3 linked regions of the Homo sapiens genome follow. The protein of the gene in region 2 interacts with the protein of the main gene of each other region in a biochemical or structural test. Each region holds a gene or a part of one and is shown on either strand. Other genes may lie near its edges.

What was found.
Region 1: the proteins of SLX4 (region 2) and SLX1A form a complex in vitro, tested with the Homo sapiens proteins (2 studies listed by BioGRID).
Region 3: the proteins of SLX4 (region 2) and EME1 form a complex in vitro, tested with the Homo sapiens proteins (3 studies listed by BioGRID, with this or other methods).

Annotation. Positions count from the first base shown.
Region 1 is NC_000016.10:30,189,384-30,196,874, forward strand, and holds the start of SLX1A (structure-specific endonuclease subunit SLX1), read left to right. Parts: upstream 1-4,491; 5' UTR 4,492-4,701; coding exon 4,702-4,889; intron 4,890-5,049; exon of another isoform or gene 5,050-5,356; coding exon 5,357-5,408; intron 5,409-5,502; coding exon 5,503-5,844; intron 5,845-7,491. Other genes in the region: BOLA2B (bolA-like protein 2), read right to left, coding at 3,592-3,691, 3,975-4,072, 4,150-4,212. UniProt on the Homo sapiens protein: Catalytic subunit of the SLX1-SLX4 structure-specific endonuclease that resolves DNA secondary structures generated during DNA repair and recombination.
Region 2 is NC_000016.10:3,594,607-3,601,632, reverse strand, and holds part of SLX4 (structure-specific endonuclease subunit SLX4), read left to right. Parts: intron 1-441; coding exon 442-654; intron 655-2,144; exon of another isoform or gene 2,145-3,472; coding exon of another isoform or gene 3,473-3,633; coding exon 3,634-3,836; intron 3,837-3,937; coding exon 3,938-4,254; intron 4,255-5,239; coding exon 5,240-5,480; intron 5,481-5,939; coding exon 5,940-6,028; intron 6,029-7,026. UniProt on the Homo sapiens protein: Regulatory subunit that interacts with and increases the activity of different structure-specific endonucleases.
Region 3 is NC_000017.11:50,376,203-50,381,983, forward strand, and holds the end of EME1 (structure-specific endonuclease subunit EME1), read left to right. Parts: intron 1-2,392; coding exon 2,393-2,479; intron 2,480-2,571; coding exon 2,572-2,693; intron 2,694-2,865; coding exon of another isoform or gene 2,866-2,904; coding exon 2,905-3,022; intron 3,023-3,249; coding exon 3,250-3,365; intron 3,366-3,462; coding exon of another isoform or gene 3,463-3,487; exon of another isoform or gene 3,488-4,109; coding exon 4,110-4,299; intron 4,300-4,560; coding exon 4,561-4,737; 3' UTR 4,738-5,281; downstream 5,282-5,781. UniProt on the Homo sapiens protein: Non-catalytic subunit of the structure-specific, heterodimeric DNA endonuclease MUS81-EME1 which is involved in the maintenance of genome stability. In the complex, EME1 is required for DNA cleavage, participating in DNA recognition and bending.

The DNA.
Region 1 (7,491 bases), about 27 Mb from region 2:
AACATCACGTTGCACGTGACTCTGCTGGCACTGTTGCTTGTGAGGAAATGAACCAACCATCACTTACAGGGTAGGCATCTTTTAAACTGCAGGTCCAAAGATAAAAATAACGAGGGAGGCTGGGCATGGGGACTCACGTCTATAATCCCAGCACTGTGGGAGGCTGAGGCGGCAGGATCATTTGAGCCCAGGAGTTTGAGACCTGCCTGAGCAACACGGCGAGATACCGTCTCTACGAAAAATAAAATAAAAAATTAGCCAGGCATGGTGGTGGGCACCTATAGTTCCAGCTACTCAGGAGGCTGAGGCAGGAGGATCCCTTGAGCCCAGGAGGTCGAGGCTGCAATGAGCCATTGCACCACTGCACTGCAGCCTGGGTGACAGAGCAAGACACTGTCTCTAAAAAATATAAATAGGCCGGGTGTGGCAGCTCACGCCTGTAATCCCAGCACTTTAGGAGGCCGAGGTGGGTGAATCACCTGAGGTCAGAAGTTCGAGACCAGCCTGGCCAACATGGTGAAACCCCATCTCTACTAAAAATACAAAAATTAGCTGGGCATGGTGGCAGGCGCCTGTAATCTCAGCTACTCAGGAGGCTGAGGCAAGAGAATTGCTTGAATCCGGGAGGCAAAGGTTGCAGTGAGCCGAGATCATGCCATTGTACTCCAGCCTGGGGGACAGGAGTGAGACTTCGTCTCAAAAAAAAAAAAAAATATATATATATATATATATATATATTTTTTAAATGTATAAATACATCATATATATTTTAATATATAAATATATTATATATATTATATATTTTAATATATAAATATATTATATATAATATATTTTAATATATAAATATTATATATATTATATTTTAATATATAAATATTATATATATTAATTATATATTTTAATATATAATATATATTATATTATATAATAATAAATTATATATTATATTATATAGTAATAAGTTATATATTATACTATATAATAATATAGTATAATATATAATATATATTATAATATATATTATATTATATTATATTATATTATATATTATAATATAAATTATATATATTTTATATATATGTTTTATATATTATATATTTTAATATATGAAACAGGGGAACTTCTTCTAAGGAAAAGACAGAATTAAGGCAACAGGCTGATCCTAGTTTACCAGAGAAGAAACTGAGGCCGGGAGCAGGAGCCCAGCTCACTGAAGGGCAGATCCCAAGTCAGAGTCCAAGTCTCCCCACTTTTTTATTTATTTAATTTTTTCTGAGATGGAGTTTCATTCTTGTTGCCCAAATTGAGTACAATGGCACAATCTCGGCTCACCGCAACCTCTGCCTTCTGGGTTCAAGCCATTCTCGTGCCTCAGACTCCCAAGTAGCTGGGATTACAGGCATGTGCCACCACGTCCGGCTAACTTTTGTGTTTTCAGTAGAGGTGGGGTCTCACCATGTTGGCCAGACTGGTCTCAAACTCCTGGCCTCAAGTCATCTGCCTGCCTCAGCCTCCCAAAGTGCTGGGATTACAGGCATGAGCCGCTGTGCCTGGCCTTATGTCTCCCCTTTTGAATTCAGAGCCTTCCCCCGTGTAGTGAGTGCTTCTGCCTCTCTAGCCCTTCCTGTGGGTTCTGCCTGGGCCTGACCTCTGTGAGAGACCTGGCAGGAACAGGTCTGTCAGGCCTTGTGGGGAGTGGGTGTGGGAATAGGTTTTGATACCCAACTTAGCAGGTGATCCTGAGATGGGAGGACACAGGGCTGTTTGGGATGGGCGTCTTAGCCATAGTAAGGTTTGGTTCATATCAAGCAGGGACCACCCATGGCGTCATTTCCAGGCCCCACCTCTTCAGTATGCCATAGAAAACTACTTGGGCAGTAGAGGTGTGGGAAGAAAACAAAAAAGAAAGCTGGGCATAAGTGGCACACGCCTGTAATCCCAGCACTTTTGGAGGCCGAGGCGGGTAGATCACCTGAGGTCGGGAGTTCAAGACCAGCCTGAACAACATGGAGAAACCCTGTCTCTATTAAAAATACAAGATTAGCCGGGCGTGGTAGCACATACCTGTAATCCCAGCTACTTGGGAGGCTGAGACAAGAGAATCGCTTGAACCCAGGAGGCGGAGGTTGTGGTGAGCCGAGATCGTGCCATTGCACTCCAGCCTGGGCAACAAGAGTGAAACTCTGTCTCAAAAACAGACAAACAAACAAACAATAAAAAACCCCCAAAAATTAGCTGGGCATGGTGGCGTGTGCCTGTAATCCCAGCTACTAGGGAGGCTGAGGCAGGAGAATCGCTTGAACCCGGGAGGGGGAAGTTGTAGTGAGCCAAGATCATGCTACTGCACTCCAGCCTGGGCAACAGAGCCAAGACTCTGTCTCAAAACAAACAAACAAACAAACAAAAAAACGCAGGAAAAGAGTGTGTGATGGCTGAAACTTGCAATTTCTCACTCTCAACGAGCCCTGGCCCCAACTAGGTTATTTGGGCTCCCTCCCTAGGTCTCAGGGACCTCTGTTCAAAGTCCTAGCAATCTGGGCCAGGTACAATGGCTCACGCCTAAAATTCCAGCACTTTAGGAGACCAAGGCGGGCAGATCACTTGAGGCCAGGAGTTTGAGACTGGCCTGGCCAACATGGTGAAACCCTGTCTCTACTAAAAGTACAAAAATTAGCCGGGCATGGTGGTGCACCCCTGTAATCCCAGCTACTCAGGAGGCTGAAGCACAAGAATCTTTTGAACCTGGGAGGCAGAGGTTGCAATGAGCTGAGATGGCGCCACGGCACTCCAGCCTGGGCGACAGAGCAAGACCCTGTCTCAAACAACAAAAAACAAATAAAACAAACAAGGTCCTAGCAACCCTACTAACCTGTTATGAAGACTGATACAGGGGCATCACCTGCCCCAATTTTCTGACTCAGGTCAGCCTTATATTCCTACTCTAATCTCACCCCTATCCCCGTCCCACACCCACTATTCTTAAAACCTCCATGGTCCTCCGGGGGCAGCTGTAGACACATTAAGCCCAGGGCTATGGGGCCACTGGAACCTTCTCCAGTGGGTCTGAAAACATCAGCATTCCAGGAGTTGATGAGCCCCTACCTGGGCACCACTCCCTCTTGGGCCTGAGAAGGCCGGGGGGAACCTGCAAGGAATATGTGGAATTCTATATGGTGCCTCTGATACTGCGGTAATGTCAGGGAGAGGTTTGTTCAACTGGTCAGGGCCCTGAAACCCCGATCACTTTCTCATCTCTGCATCTTGAAGGCTAGCAGAGAGGAGGAACCCTGAGCTCTCTAGGAGGTGGGTAGGTGGTGGCAGTACAGACTCCTAGATGTCTAAACGGAGTTGCAGAGAGAAGGCTTTCTCGGTAGACCCTGGAAGGGACTTTTACGGTAGAACTTTCATTTTACAAGCAGGGATAGAGGCCTAGATGGGGACAGAGACGTGTCCAAGGTAAAACAATGGACGGAGGCAGGGCAGGGAGAGGCCAGGTCCTAGACTCGGCCTCAGCACCCCTCCCACACACACATCGACACAGAAGCTGGTCCAGATTTATAATTTAATGGCTGTGCAGATCCCAGTCCCTCATTTCTGTCGCTCACGTGCCCACTGGTCTGGGGTCAGGGTTTTCTGTTCAAAGGCATGGATGTGCGGGAGCTCTTCTGCTAGGCACGCGTTCACCAGCCTGGGGCGAGAGATGGGGTTAGGAAAAGGCCAGCGGTGATCGCACACCCCGAGGCTAGGGTGACCCAAGAGACTGGTGTCCCCAAGGTTGTAGTCCCCAGGCCGTGGGAACACGTACTTGGAGAGAGGGTCTACATCGAAATACTCGAAGCAGGGGTCACGAAGGCGGGATCCTCAAGGTCCCTGAGCCACGCCAGGGGGAGTGCGGGAGTCAGGTTGCAGGGGTAGGGGGAGTGGCTGGGGTTGTGGTACAGGAGCTAGGCAAGGTGCTCCCAGGGCCTTACCTGTGTCTCTGAAGCAGCGGTTTCCCCTCGAACTTGGCCGACACCACCAGGACTCGGAAGCTACAGGAGCAACGGTTGAGGGTCGTGTCCTCCACCTCCTACCGAGCGGAAGAATATGAATGGTGCCGAACCCGCCCCCCGAGCTCTTTTCCCCTTGTCCGGCGGCTCAACTCACCACATGCTCCGCCTCCAGGTCCCGCTGCAGCTTCTCGCGGAGGTATTCGGCGCTGAGTTCCATGGCGGCAGTCCAGCTGGAACGGCAGCCCAGCAGGGACACAACCCCAGCTCGGGCGCCGGCCACGCTACCTTGCTGCCTTACAGGAGCCACTTCCGCTGGAAAACTCACTTCCGCCCTTACTAAGGCGTACGTCAACGCAGTACTTCCGCCCTCAAGCAGCCGGGCTTTCCAGCGGTCCAGGCTTTTCGCGCTTGCCATGTGTCAGCCAATCAGAGCCTGAGGAAGGTGGGACTCGGGCGGAGCCGATGCTGAATGGTACGCGCTCGCCGACTGGACAGCAGTCTGGCTTCCGCGGTCGGACTTCTACACCCGCCTCCAGACAGGAGAGGGGCACGTACCGGCGCTACGGCTTCCTGCAGGCTGCCTCCGGATAGTCCCCGAGAGCTTGTTCCGAAGCAAGCACCCTGCAGCCCTAGCGATCCAGCCCTCCCCTGGACCCTAGGTCACGGCAATCAACCCCCTGCTGTGGTTCCCGAACCCCAAGGCCCGATGGGTCCCGCGGGGGTCGCGGCGAGGCCAGGGCGCTTTTTCGGCGTCTACCTGCTCTACTGCCTGAACCCCCGGTACCGGGGCCGCGTCTACGTGGGGTTCACTGTCAACACTGCTCGTCGGGTCCAGCAGCACAATGGGGGCCGCAAAAAAGGCGGGGCCTGGCGGACCAGCGGGCGAGGGCCCTGGTGAGAGGGGGAGGCCTTCTGTGCCGGGAGGAAGGCGTCCCAGAGGAGGCGGACCCCGCGGGGCACAGGCCTGTTGAGAAGGACCGGCCAGGACTGTGACAGAGGCGGGGCGTCTGTGGTGGGGACGGGGCCTGTCGCAGGGGAGGAGCGTGACGGGGAGGCGGTGCCCGGGGCATCTCCGCGGCGGAACTCAGGGAAGGAGCTAGCTGGGGCGGGGGTGATGATCCAGGCTGGGTTCCAGCATAGGGCTCTTGGTGGGCACGCTGGGGTCGGGTGGAATGCAGGAGAGAGAGGAGGTGGGACAGGTGGGTACCTGGGCTGGAGGCAGGGCCTGAGGTGGGCAGGTGCAGAGGGCTGCACTTCTCGGCTGAAGCCGGGAATGAGGACCCCGCTCTCGGGTGGGATTGGAGGGGACCCGCGGCTGAGGCGCTGGGCTGCGACAGGGACATCACCGTTCTCCTCCTCAGGGAGATGGTGCTCGTCGTGCACGGCTTCCCGTCCTCCGTGGCCGCCCTTCGGGTAAGGAAGGAGACCGGGCAGCGGCGGCCGGGTGAGGGCTTGGGTTCCGCCCCTCGCTCCGAGCCGCCCTGATGCCCCTGTACGCCGCCCGCAGTTTGAGTGGGCTTGGCAGCACCCGCACGCCTCGCGCCGCCTGGCGCACGTGGGGCCTCGCCTGCGAGGAGAGACAGCCTTCGCTTTCCACCTGCGCGTGCTGGCGCACATGCTGCGCGCACCGCCCTGGGCTCGCCTCCCGCTCACGCTGCGCTGGGTGCGCCCAGACCTCCGCCAGGACCTCTGCCTCCCGCCGCCGCCGCACGTGCCTCTGGCCTTCGGGCCTCCACCGCCCCAGGCCCCGGCCCCAAGGCGCCGCGCAGGTCCCTTTGATGACGCGGAGCCTGAGCCAGACCAGGGGGATCCAGGGGCCTGCTGCTCCCTGTGCGCCCAGACCATCCAGGTGAGGTCCCCCCGAGGAATGGATGGCTCTAGAGTCCAGACGACTTCGGATCCAGCTCTTTCTTGAGGGAAACCCACTGACACGCTTTGGCCACCCTATCCCCATCTCTAAGATGCTGATGCTATAGGACTTACGGCCATTCCTGAGCAAAGCAGGCCCTGCTCAGGGCCTTCACCATTTCCCCTTCAAAGAAAAGGTTCTTCCCTAGGCCATCAGTACTCCGCTGCACTCCAGTGTGGTCGACAGAGCATGACCCTCTTTTTTTTTTTTTTTTTTTTGAGATGGAGTCTAGCTCTGTCGCCCAGGCTAGAGTGCAGTGGCGCGATCTCTGCTCACTGCAAGCTCCGCCTCCTGGGTTCACGCCATTCTCCTGCCTCAGCCTCCCGAGTAGCTGGGACTACAGGCGCCCGCCACCACGCCTGGTTAATTTTTTGTATTTTTAGTAGAGACGGGGTTTCACCGTGTTAGCCAGGATGGTCTCGATGTCCTAGCCTCGTGATCCGCCCGCCTCAGCCTCCCAAAGTGCTGGGATTACAGGCATGAGCCACCGCGCCCGGCCCTTTTTTTTTTTTTAGACAGAGTCTTGCTCTGTTGCGGAGGCTGGAGTGCAGTGATCTCAGCTCACTGGAAGCTCCGCCTCCTGGGTTCAAGCGATTCTCCTATCTCAACCTCCCAAGTGTGCCACCACACCTGCCGAATGTTTGTGTTTTTAGTAGGGATGGGGTTCGCCATGTTGGGCAGGCTGGTCTCAAACTCCTGACCTCAAGTGATCTGCCCGCCTCGGCCTCCCAGAGTGCTGGGATTATAGGCGTGAGCCACCATGCCTGGACATGACCCTGTCTCTAAAACAATGTAATGAACTGCAGCTCATTCTTGTGTGCACTTTTCTGCACCCCCTTTCCCTTAACACTTACTATTGTCTGGCATGCTACGTGTTTTCTTGATCTCATTAGCCTCTCCCACCCCAACTGCCACACTGCACTATCAGAGGGCAGCACTTATCACTGCTGTAGAACAAAGTCCTGCACTGAGCCGATGGCCCAGAAATTTTCTTTTTATTTATTTATTTATTTTTTTTTTGAGACAGAGTCTTACTCTGTCGCTCAGGCTGGAGTGTAGTGGCGCGATCTCAGCTCACTGCAACCTCTGCCTCCTGGTTTCAAGCAATTCTCCTTCCTCAGCCTCCAGAGTAGCTGGGATTACACGCGCCTGCCACCGCGCCTGGCTAATTTTTGTATTTTTAGTAGAGATGGGGTTTCAACCATGTTGGCCAGGCTGGTCTCAAACTCCTGACCTCAGGTGATCCTGCCCACCTAAGCCTCCCAAAATGCTGGTATTACAGGCATGAGCCACCGTGCCCGGCCTAAATATTTAATAAAATAATGGACGATGGGTGCCTTCTACTGAGCTCCCGGTAATTGTGAGTGAGTAGAGGACTTGCCCTGGGGACATTCAGTGACCTGCTGGGTGTTGCTGAGCTGTGAGGAAGTTCAGGTCTGGCTGCAGTGGTGAGGCTGTGACTCAATCAATCACTGCTGATGCTCCCAGGACCTGCACCAGCTTAGTCCTAGGGGCAAGGATTTTAACTGTCCACCTCAGTTTCTTCATTTGTAAGATGCAAATAACAGTCACCCCTGCCTCATGGGA
Region 2 (7,026 bases):
CTCATTGTATGGCTAGACTGTGTTTTTCCCATTCTTAGATGAGGAATATGACCATGGTTTATCCTTTCGTCCATTGGCGGACATTTGGAGCATTTCTACCCTTTGGGATTGTGGATAGAGCTGCCGTGAACATGGGTTTCATGTATTTGTTTGGGTACCTGCTTTCAGTTCTTTGGGGTCTCTACTTAGGAGTGGAATTTCTAAGTCATCATGTAACTGCATTTAATCTTTCCTTGCTTTCTTTAGCCAACTTTGCTGACAGATACCTAAGTGTAGTGTCTAGGGGCTGACTGCCGGGAGACGGAGCCAGGCTGTGTAGAGGGGATTGGCTTTGGGGAACTTGCTTTGACCACAGCACGTCTGTGTTGACCTGGACCCACATTTGCTCCAATCCACATTCCTGGGGAGGGTGGTTCTCCTGTATTGACTGTTTTCCTTCAGGTGCTTGGATGAAGCTGAAAAGACACTAAGACCTTCTGTGCCTCAGATCCCTGAGTGCCCGATTTGTGGGAAACCGTTTCTTACCTTAAAGAGCAGAACCAGTCACTTGAAGCAGTGTGCTGTGAAGATGGAGGTTGGCCCCCAGCTCCTGCTTCAGGCTGTGCGGCTGCAGACAGCACAGCCTGAGGGTAGCAGCAGCCCACCCATGTTCAGGTAAGTCGACGAAAAGGAAGAAAACCAAGCCAAATAATGCTGTGTGCACTCAGGGCTTTTTCTATTTAAAAAAGCTTTTTATGGGCTGGACGCAGTAGTTCACACCTGTAATCGCAGCACTTTGGGAGGCCAAGGTGGGCAGATCACCTTAGATCAGGAGTTCGATACCAGCCTGGCCGACATGGTACAATCTCGTCTCTACTAAAAATACAAAAATTAGCATGGTGGCACATGCCTGTAGTCCCAGCTACTTGGGAGGCTGAGGCAGGAGAATCACTTGAACCCAGAAGGTAGAGGTTGCAGTGAGCCAAGATCGTACCACTGCACTCCAGCCTGGACAGAGTGAGATCCTGTCTCCAAAAAAAAAAAAAAAAAAAAAAAAAAAAAGCTTTTTATAGTGTTGGAGGGAAAAAGAGCCCTCTTTGATTCTGGAAATGAAACACTTAGGGCGGAAATCGGGCACAGTCTAGAAGGGAGTGAGGAGGGGACAGAATCTGCATTCTGGAAGGCTCTGGACCTGCCCCTTTAGGGGGGTGCAGAAATGATCTTCGCACTGTTTTCCTCAAGGTCCTTCCTGAGTTTCCAATCCCATGATCCCACAGTCGGTACCCTCTAGTGCAGGGGTCCCCAACCCCCCAGCCTCGGACCAGTACCGGTCTGTGGCCTGTTAGGAACCTGGCCACACAGCAGGAGGTGAGCAGCGGGCAGGCAAGCTTTACTGCCTGAGCTCCGCCTCCTGTCAGATCAGTGGTGGCATTAGACTCACAGGAACACAAACCCTGTTGTGAGCCGCACATGCATGGAATCTAGGTTGAGCTCTCCTTATGAAAATCTAAAGCCTGATGATCTGAGGTGGAATGCTTTGATGCTGAAACCATTCCCCTACTCCTGTCCCATGGAAAAATTGTCTTCCATGAAACCAGTTCCTGGTACCAAAAAGGTTGGGGACTACTGCTTTACCACATCTAAGAATTTGGTAGTCACTTTACTCCATCCATTTCGTTGTTGGACAGCATGGTTTCCACCTCAGCACAGTCCAGTTTTCACACTGTTAACATAAGATTACTCAGCACAGTTCACAGATTTGGTGATTGGCCAGGCACGGTAGCTTACACCTGTAATCTCAATACTTTGGGAGGCCAGGGCGGAAGGATCACTTGAGCCCAGGAGTTCAAGGCCAGCCTGGACTACATAGCAAGACCCATCACTACAAAAAATTAAAAAATTAGCTGGCTGTGGTGCTGCACACCTGTAGTCCCAGCTACGTGGGAGGCTGAGGCGGAAGGATCACTTGAGCCTGGGAGGCCAAGGTTGCAATGAGCTGTGATTGCACCACTGCACTCCAGCCTGGGCGACAGGGCAAGAACCTGTCTTCATAAAACAAACAAAAACAACAACAAAGTTGGTGCAACAGAAGTGTAGGACCCTATTTTTTAAAAATCTTGCATGAATTAATGCTTAAAAGTTAAAATGAGTTGCCTTGCTCACAGCCAGGAAACAAGTCCTCAGCATGCAAACCACAGCCACACAAGTGCCAGAGGGCTGGCCCTGCTCCACGCTGCCCTGCTGCTGAGGACGCTAGAGCTGACACCAGGTTCATAGTGAACAAAGGCATCTTGGACCTTTGACTCCTCCAGGTTTGAGACCGCTGTCAGGAGCAAAGGGAAGGCCAAAGGCGATAGCTGTTTGTCCCGCCCCCTGCTTTGCACACAGGTCATGGGCAGCTGAGCTGGCTCGGGGCTGAGATGGCAGAGGGCAGAGGGGATTCTCTTGGTGGAGGAGCGCATCTGTATTTAGCATGGCAGGGGTGCAAGCCTTGAGGCCTTAGAATAGACGTCATCTAAGCCATTGTTTCTTTCTTGGCAGGACCACGCCAAAAGCACCTGCTCAGATAAAGTATGTCTGCCTTTAGAATACCTCCAAGTACTGAAACTAGATGTATGTGGATCCGTTTAGAAGGTTGTCAGAGTAGAAAACTACAGGAGCTGGATGCCCTCATGGGGTCTTTGAACCCCTCCCTCCCCAAAGGCCAAGCCTGTGGTCATCAGAACGCATGCCCCGGCCAGAGTGCCTCATATTCTTTCCCCACAGCCCAAACCTGGCCTGCTGGGGAGTGAGGAGGGAACACAGTCTGTGTTCCCTTCACAGAAGCAGGGTCCCAGGCTGCCCAGGCAGCTCCTTTCCCTCTGGGAGGCTGTGATTATCCACGTTCCTGGGAAGGTGAACTTGAGCCATCCCTGGCACCCTGGAGAGCATGAGCTTTTGCAAAAGCCAGAGGCATGACTGCATTGCAGGGAAGGTGGGCCCGGTTTGTGCTAAGTTCCTTTGTCACCTCTGCCCTCCTCCTTCTTGCCCAGCTTATTGGGAGTCACCCAGGCAGCCTAGGTTCTCTCCAGCCGGAAACTCCTGTTCATTTCCTCCAAACCAAACGAGCTGCTGCCCGTTGAAAGTGCAGAGTCCCGGGGCGGCTGGTATAATGTTGACCATCGGCAGCCTAAGCTGGGAAGCCCTTCCTTCTGGCCATGGACAGAGGCACTGCCGTGGAGCCCTTGCAGGAGGGAAGGGATCCTTTTCTGCCGGTGTGGCCAGGACCGTGTAAGGAGCATCGGAAGTATTGATGGGTGAAGGTGGTGGGAGTCCAGGGAGCCTGCTCAGAGCCATCGATTGTTGACTCCATTGGATGGGCTTGGCCACATGAGGATGTGCAGGTACCACAGATGGCTCCGTACATCTGCCATGAGCCTGCTGGACAGCAGCACGTGAAGGAACCCAGACCCTCCTGTGCCTGGGCCATGTTGAACTTCTGGCCTGGAATTGAATGAGTTCACACAAGGCAGTGGAAGTGGGGGACGCATCTGCCTGGCAGGTCCACATCCGTCACTTTTCTCTCAGGCCCAGCCCTCTCCAGACCAGTGTGACCAACCTGAGAAGCGTGCACTCCTCTAGCCCCAGTAACTTTTCTCTTTGGCTGTTTTCTAGCTTCAGTGATCACAGTAGAGGTCTGAAACGGAGAGGACCCACCAGCAAGAAGGAGCCACGGAAGAGGCGGAAGGTGGACGAGGCACCGTCCGAGGACCTGCTGGTGGCCATGGCTCTGTCCCGGTCGGAGATGGAGCCGGGTGCGGCTGTACCAGCGCTCAGGCTGGAAAGTGCCTTTTCTGAGAGGATAAGACCAGAAGCAGGTTTGTGTGATCAGAAGAGTGACCCTGGGAGAGGCCATCAGCAGGTCCCGGGTGAGTGGACCGACTCCACCGTTGATGGTGTCGCTTTTGTTTCTCTCTAGAGAATAAAAGTCGCAAGAAGAAACCCCCGGTATCCCCCCCATTGTTGTTAGTCCAGGACTCTGAAACCACAGGCCGACAGATAGAGGACCGTGTGGCCCTGCTCCTCTCTGAGGAAGTGGAATTGTCTAGCACGCCACCACTTCCTGCCAGCAGGATTTTAAAGGAAGGGTGGGAAAGAGCGGGCCAGTGTCCTCCTCCACCTGAACGCAAGCAGAGCTTTCTGTGGGAGGGCAGCGCACTGACTGGGGCCTGGGCCATGGAGGACTTCTACACGGCCAGGCTGGTCCCTCCTCTCGTGCCCCAGCGGCCTGCCCAGGTGAGTCCCTCCCCTCAGGCACATGGATAGGCTTTTGGGGGAGGTTGGCAATCCCAGAACTGCAACACTGGGTACCCACAGCCAGGTGATGGAAAGTCCAGGAAGGAAAGGCAGAGGCGGGAGGAGGCCAGAGGGGCACTTGGTGGCTGCAGCTTTCTTCTCTGTCCAGCAACTACATGGTACTCTGGGTAGGATCAGGGAGGACCCTTGGTGTCCACCAGAGTGTGTTCCTGGAGTTTGTTGAAAATGCAGAGTCCCGGCCGGGCGCAGTGGCTCACGCCCGTAATCCCTGCACTTTGGGAGGCTGAGGTGGGCGGATCACGAGGTCAGGAGTTCGAGACCAGCCTGGCTAATATGGTGAAACCCCATCTCTACTAAGAATACAAAAATTAGCCAGGCATGGTGGCACACACCTGTAATCCCAGTTACTTGGGAGACTGAGGCAGAAGAATCGCTTGAACCGGGGAGGCGGAAGTTGCAGTGAGCCGAGACCGTGCCATTACACTCCAGCCTGGGCAACAAAGTGAGACTCTGTCTTGAAAAAAAAAAAAAAAACAGAGTCCCAGGGCAACTGGCAAAATGCCTCAGATGGAGCCCGGAAACTGGCATTCGGAGCACACACTCCAGACAGTCGTGCGGCAGGTAGCCCTACAGTCAGTACGCAGCTGCCTGAGGCAGCTTGGAGGACTTCAGGAGGGCGGCAGGCCTGGGCCCCCCTGGCCTCTGACAAGCCTTTGTGCAAACAGATGCCACAGGCCTGGCCTTGGCCGTGACAGAGGAGGAGCATGTTGACATGAGTGCTGGGGAAAAGCATCCCAGGACTGCTCCAGGCTGTGGCTGGAGCCCCGGGGACAGTCTGTCCCCACAGCCCACATCCTGCTCTGTAGTTTTAGGTCCAGCCGTGCATACCACATGTGATGGCTTCTGCAGTGTGTGCGTCAATGACAGTGACCACGTGGTCACTCTCCTTACTGGCTTCTTTCAGGGCCTTATGCAGGAGCCCGTGCCGCCTCTGGTGCCACCTGAGCACTCAGAGCTGAGCGAGCGAAGGTCACCCGCTCTCCACGGCACCCCCACTGCAGGCTGTGGCTCCAGGGGCCCGTCGCCTTCGGCCAGCCAGAGGGAGCACCAGGCCCTGCAGGACCTCGTGGACCTGGCGAGGGAGGGACTGAGCGCCAGCCCGTGGCCCGGCAGTGGGGGCCTGGCTGGCTCGGAAGGGACTGCAGGTGAGATGCTGGGTGGGACTCTAGGGCCAGCCCTGCCCTCCCGGGCCTCCCCTCCCCGCGGCTGAGGCTGCCATGGACTGGCTCTTGTGCCGCCGCGACGGCAGCTCTGACCTGGTGGGAGAACACGCAGCCTCTGGGCGCTTTCATTTTTTCTCAAAGGTCAATGTGGTGTAGACAACTCTGTCATGATTTTCCTTCCACTTTAACCAAAGACAGAGCTGTCTGCCCACAGCGAGTGAATCCTCTGGGTGAACTGTCTGTTTTGCTCTTCTCTTACCTCCCTGGTGGAGTGGTGGTGAGACAGGGTGTGCGGGTTTGCTTTGCATGAAGGTGTCCTCGGATAGCAAGCACCTTCCGAGGCACCGCAGGGGCTGGCTCAGCCTGTGGTCAACGCTGTCTTCTTGGTGGTGGATGTGGCTGGGCTGTGACGTTCCTTTAACCTGTGAATCCTCCACTCAGGGTTGGACGTGGTGCCCGGCGGCCTTCCTCTGACTGGGTTTGTGGTGCCATCGCAGGACAAGCACCCGGACAGGGGCGGCCGCACCTTGGTAAGAACTGGCTCTGGCCCGCGCTCTCTGGTCCCGGCCATCCCACTTGCCATGTGTGTGGTGGGGTTGGCTCACCGCTGGCCTCTGGCCCCCAACGCAAGTGCAGTGGCCTCTCAAGGCCTCTGCTTTCCAGAAGGCTGCCACATCCTGACATCCGTGAGCAGAGCCACGGACCCACAGCCACCTCAGCGCCCCTCTGGGGGCTCTGCCACGAGACTTCTGCCTTTTCTGTCTGTGACTCCATGGGGCACCTTGGGGTTGAGGCCCCAGAGCCTGCCCTGTCCTGGGTCCCAGGAGTGTAGAGGGACCACAGTTTCTCAGCGCGGTTGCCCCATCCAGGCACGCTCTGCTCGTTCCTCAGTAGTTGGGAGCTCACCAAGGGCTTGCTCTCCCTCCCCTCTGTGCGGGTCCTGGGCTCCAGAGCACAGCTGAGCAGCCTGGCCTGGCCTCCCTGTCAGTGCGCTGTCTGGGGAAGAACCGGGGTGGGAACTGGCTTTTCCCTAGAGTGGACCTCCTCCCATTTGCATGTCAGTGTCAACCAAGCACTTCATGCCAAGGCCAGCCTAGGGACATCATCACAGACTGGACCCGGCTGTCCTCTTGGCCAGGTCCCCGAGCTGCTTGGACTCAGGGTGCTTGTCCGTCACAGGGGATGGGTGCACCTCCTCAAAGCCCAGGTATCCCGCAGCCTGTCCCACTCAGTGCGGGAGCTGCCAGCACTGTGAGTTCACATCTAGCCCCATGTCTGGCATCTCCACGGGGGCCAGGGAACCCACTGGCAAGAGCCAGAGGAACAAGCTAGTGCTTTGCTCTTCTGTGCTACTCAGGGCCTTAGGGTCACTCAGAGGTTGAGGCCATCGTGGGAAGCGTTTTGGAGAGGAAAGGAGAATGCAGGTCCTGGCTCCCGGCCCACCCTAGCGCCACCTCCATGCGGGGAGCTTCCCACTGCCCAGTTAGCAGAGCAGAGGTGGGGAGGTGACGGCTCTTCCTCTCCTCCT
Region 3 (5,781 bases), on a different chromosome or scaffold from region 2:
TTCTGGCTGACATTTCCTCCCTCTCCTCCCCTTACAATTACAGGATAAATATGCTTTTATTTTAAAGGATACTTATCAGGGCCCCAGCAGGAAGACAGATGGCACATTCAACTCAGGGTAATTAAAAGAAGATTGAATAAAGGGACTGTTTGCCAAGGCATGGGCAGGGTATGAGGAAACTACCAGTGACAGCATGGTACCTCACAGTAATAACAGCACAACTTAGGTTTTTCGACCTCAGTATTGTTGACATTTTAGATTGGAGAATTCTTTGTTTTGGGTGCTGTCCTATGATGTGCACAATGTTTAGCAGCATTCCTGGCCACTATCTACTAATGTACCCCTCTCAGTCATGACAATAAAAAATGTCTGCAGACACTGCCAGATGTCATTTGTGGGGAAAAATCACCCCCGGTTGAGAACCATTGGCATAGCTGTTACCATCCCTATGCCTGAAGGGATGAGGGGAAGGAGTGGTTAACAGAATTCAGGAGAGAGAAATGGAGAGAGGACCACCTTGAGCGAAGCTATGAGCTGCCACAGAGGGGGACAGCAAACCCTAGGTGACCCCACTGGGAGGGAGCCAGGGGAAAAATACCCTGACTTCACTTTTCTCCTTCCCACTAGTCCTCTCCTCGGGTCCCTGCTGGTGACACCCAGCTGGGAGCCAGAAGACATGTGGGCCCTGTGTTTTTTGTAGAGATTGCAGAGTGTAGCTTGTATTTTTGGTAGAGACGGGGTTTTGCCATGTTGCCCAGGCTGGTCTTCAACTCCTGAGCTCAAGCAATCCACCTGCCTCAGCCTCTCAAAATGCTGCGATTACAGGTGTGAGGCACCTTGCCTAGCACTAAGATTCTTTTTTATCTCACCAGAAGCATCTTGTATAAAATAAGAAAAAAGATTTTTTTTTCCTCTCTTTGATTTCTTTTTTGGATCTGATAACTTTCTCAGTAACACAGGACAGTTCCCCACACTTTTTACTCTGGGGGTATTAGCAAGCCTTTATATTCATAGAGCAGCTTACCCTCTCAAGGCACTCCCACATTCTCTCTTGTGTTTCCATCAGTCATCCTATGGGGTAGGACTTCTCCCCACATCACAGGTGGGGAAACTGGGGCTCAGAAAAGTTAAAAGCCTTGTTGAGGATCACAACGGGAATGAGAACCCAGAGCTCCCCAAACCTACACTTTGCTGTAATATAGGTCTTGCTTTGCTTATAGGGACCCAATCAGAAAACTTTCTATCAAAGTCCTGTTCCCCAATTACTCCATAATACTGTACTGCTGGAGGATTGTTGGCCTTGAGGCATCCTTGACTTTGATTATGCCCTACCTGTGATAAACAGGAGGTACTCTCATAGACTGAAGTTTCCCTTGTGATTCTTGTCTTTGTCACAAAAAAACCTATCTGTTTGTAAGGACCACTCGGCTCACAGCATCTGCCTTCAAAGCCAGAGTCATTTACTTGTACTAACCTTTGGAAGAGTTTCCCTTCCCTCCATTCCCGTATTCAAAATGGCCCCAGCCCCTTTCAACTTGCTATGTTCCTTTTTTCTCTCTTTTTTTTTTTTTGAGACAGAGTTTCACCCTGCTGCCCAGGCTAGAATGCAATGGCATGGTCTCGGCTCACTGCAGCTTCTGCCTTCTGGGTTCAAGTGATTCTTCTGCCTCAGCCTCCCAAGTAGCTGGGATTACAGGCGTGTACCACCACGCCCAGCTAATATTTTTGTATTTTTAGTAGAGACGGGGTTTCACCATGTTGGCCAGGCTGGTCTCGAACTCCTGACCTCAGGTGATCCGCCCGCCTAGGCCTCCCAAAGTGCTGGGATTGGGATTACAGGTGTGAGCCACCGTGCCTGGCCTGCTATGTTCCTTTTTTTTTTTTTGATGGAGTCTAGCCCCGTTGCCAGGTTGGGGTGCAGTGTTATGATCTCGGCTCACTGCAACCTCCACCTCCCAGTTTCAAGCAATTCTCCTGCCTCAGTCTCCCGAGTAGCTGGGATTACAGGCACGTACCGCCACACCCAGCTAATTTTTGTATTTTTAATAGAGATGGGGTTTTACCGTGTTGGCCAGGATGGGCTTGATCTCCGACCTCGTGATCTGCCCACCTCGGCCTCCCAAAGTGCTGGGATTACAGGCGTGAGTCACCGCGCCCGGCTGCTATGTTCCTTTCTTATTCACTGTCTCTGAGATGCAGGGCACCAAGACTGAATCATTGAGGGCTGGGAGGGACAGCGACACTGTTTCTTGCCACAGTGACTTCATTCCAGAAAGGATAATGCATAAGGGGTGGGAGTTAGTTCATTCACCCAGAAGACCTGGGCCACTCTCACAGGTGCTCAATACCTGCTGACCTCCCTCCCTGTGCTGTGTTCTGGGTACTTTGGCAGGACAGAGAGGACTGGGTGGAGGAGCCAACAGTACTGGTGTTGCTCCGGGCAGAGGCATTTGTGTCCATGATCGACAATGGAAAGCAGGTGGGCAGAGCCAGAGGGTGGGAGGACACGGAACAGAGGGCTGACTCTTACTAGGAAGCAAGTATTAATGCAGTTTCTGCCCCTTCATGCAGGGAAGCCTGGACAGCACTATGAAAGGGAAGGAAACGCTTCAGGGCTTTGTAACTGACATCACAGCAAAGACAGCAGGGAAAGCTCTGTCACTGGTGATTGTGGATCAGGAGAAATGCTTCAGGTTTGGATTTGCCCTGGTGATTTCATGTTAAAAGGGGCAGCTCTTGGGCCAAGGGGGGTGAGTTTAGTTTATTCATTGCAGATGTAGGTCACTCTGCAAGGTAGTCCATCTCTAACAAGTCCAGGGGGATGCTCTGGTCCAGTCTTCTTCTGTATCTTCTGCCTGACTTCAGCCTGGAGCTGCTGTTCTTTGATTTCCTCCCCTGCACCAGTGCTCAGAATCCTCCAAGAAGAGGGAAACAGGGAGCAAATAAACAGACCAAGAAGCAGCAGCAGAGACAACCAGAGGCCAGCATAGGGTCCATGGTATCCAGGGTAGACGCTGAAGAGGTAAGAACGTCCTGTTGCCTGAATCGGGCTGGGTACTCACTGGTCACCTGAGACTTGCTATTGATAGAGAATAAAATGCCTGCTGCGTACTGTTTTCTGCCTTGGCACTGACTAAGAGAAGGTACCAAACAGGAAGCCAAGGGGCTGGGGTGTGGCTTTAGTGGACAGTGACTTGGCAGCTAGTCTCTTCCTACCCTTCCAGTCCATCGTTGCTTTTGGGTTTCTAGGCATTGGTGGATCTGCAGCTACACACAGAAGCCCAGGCTCAAATTGTGCAGAGCTGGAAAGAGCTGGCCGACTTCACATGCGCATTCACAAAGGCTGTGGCTGAGGCGCCCTTCAAGTGAGTAACCCCAGCAAGTCCAGCCTCCATGCTGGGCCTGTCCTTTACCATGGCTCTTGCAGTCAAAGCAAATGTCCCTTTCCCCTCATCTCTGCAGTCAGCCCATTGTCTCTCAAGCTTGAGGCAGAAGGAGCTGACCTCACACTGGGGATTCTTGGGAAGAGTCCTCAAGCCTAGCGCCTTTTCAAATATTCTCCTTTCGCCTATATGTAAGTATGTGTTCTGCAGGCTGATATCATAGGCCAGGTTACCATAGGCCAAGTTACCAGGATTAATTACAGGTCAGATCACAATGTAATAAGCACTAGGAAAGCAAATTTTTGGCCTACTCAGTTCAAGAAGTGTTCACTGTCAGAATTTAAAATAAGTAAATGACCTCAGAGACAATCCAGTCCAAGTCCCTTATTTTATACTTGAGGGGACTGAGGCCTGAAGAGATTGACTTGTCTAAGCTCCTAGCAGTTAGAAGAACCAGAAATAGATTGCAGATTGCCAGATATCCAAAGAATCTGGTATCTTTTCTTCTACTATAATGGACTAGATGTAGTTTTTAAATGAATCAGCAACTGGCCCTATACCTGGCAACAAAGTGAGCACTCAAATTGTCAAAGGCACAAAAAGGCCAGATGTAACATGGCGCCCACCTCTTCCAAGGTCAGTGGGGGGGTTTTCAGTTGCCACTTGAGGGGAACAGGTGTAGAAGAGTAATGAGCAACTTACAGCTCTCCAACCACGCTGTTGCAGGAAGCTCCGAGATGAAACTACCTTCTCCTTCTGTCTGGAGAGTGACTGGGCTGGAGGGGTGAAGGTGGACCTTGCTGGCAGGGGACTCGCACTAGTCTGGAGGAGACAGATTCAGCAGCTGAACCGAGTCAGCCTGGAAATGGCCAGTGCAGTTGTGAATGCCTATCCCTCCCCACAGCTCCTGGTACAGGTATGCTGCTCCAGGGCTCAGGGGTCACTGCCCATTGCCTGCGGGCTCAGTGGGCCCCCAGATTTCCATGGACAACTGTTGAGGGCCCACAAAGGCCTCACAGGTCAGCAGTGCAGGTCTACTAAGATCAGTGTTGCTAATGCTGACCCAGGGAGGGAGGACAGGTTCTCATGCCCCAAGCCAAGCGTAGCACCCTCCATGCTCATGGAGAAGGGATCACCATGGATGGTACCATATTAAGAGGTCATCTACCACTTCCAGGCTTATCAGCAGTGTTTTTCGGATAAAGAACGCCAGAATTTGCTCGCAGACATACAGGTGCGCCGTGGGGAAGGTGTGACATCCACTTCTCGCCGCATTGGACCAGAACTATCCAGGCGTATCTACCTTCAGATGACCACTTTACAGCCACATCTCTCTTTAGATAGTGCTGACTGATTCTAGCCCTCAGGGATGAGGATGAAAAGCTGGAAACTTCCACTTCCCCAACCTCAGAGCCTGACTGTAATGAAGAGACTGGCAGCACCTCCTGGAACACAAGCCTAGGTGAGGCCCAGTCTTTCTTGGGTCTTATTATTTGTGAAGGTCTCTCTGCCTGTCGGCTGGGGCAGAGACTGAAATACTGCCACCTACCTTTGGCATTTAATGTTCCTCTCCTGGCAAAAATTCACTGCCACAGACAAACCACCCCCACTCCTACCCAGCCAGCCCTCAAAACACAAAGGAACAAAGACAGTCCACTCAGACACTTATTTAATAACTGTAGAAATCCAAAAGAATTAGCATCAAATCTTGAAGTCGTGAGTGAAGCTGCGGGTTGGCTTGACTGGGCTCAGCCACTGAGCTGCCTCAACCGGCCAAGGAACGGGATTATGATGACTATGCGGACTTCTATATTGTCTTCATCTCATTGTGTGTATTATGTATTTAGTTTCAATAAAGCATTTGTACCAATGGCTCTGGAGCTTGGAGGAAGACTAAAGGAATGTGTAGTGATTCTGAGTAAGATGTAGACCTACGCAGCAGAGCTATGGGGGAGAAGATTAACAAAGTCCTTTCTTCCAATATCAGGATAGTCATGAGTTGCAGTCCCATCCAAAAGGTCATTAGGGCTAAAAGGCCCTCTGTGTCTCTGAACTATGAGATTCTTGCTCCCTCCGGGGGAGCCAAGGAGCTTGCAACTGGGAGTTTGCAGTGAATGAGCACCATGACACAGTCATTTCTGATCCCTCTATCCAGCTGTTGTGAAAAGATGAAGCAAAGGAGGCAAGAAAATGCTTAATTTAGCAGACAAGAGAATGGACAGTGTGATCCTTGTTTGTGCTAGCCATTGGGTGATGCACCACTTTTCAGCTCCATGATGCTACTTGTTTCCCTTCATATCCTGTTTCCATTTATGCCCTTCAGTTATGGTCTAGAATCAAACAATTCTAAACCTCAGTGTCTTATGAAGCTGACACTTCAAAACCTGCAGAAGCAGGT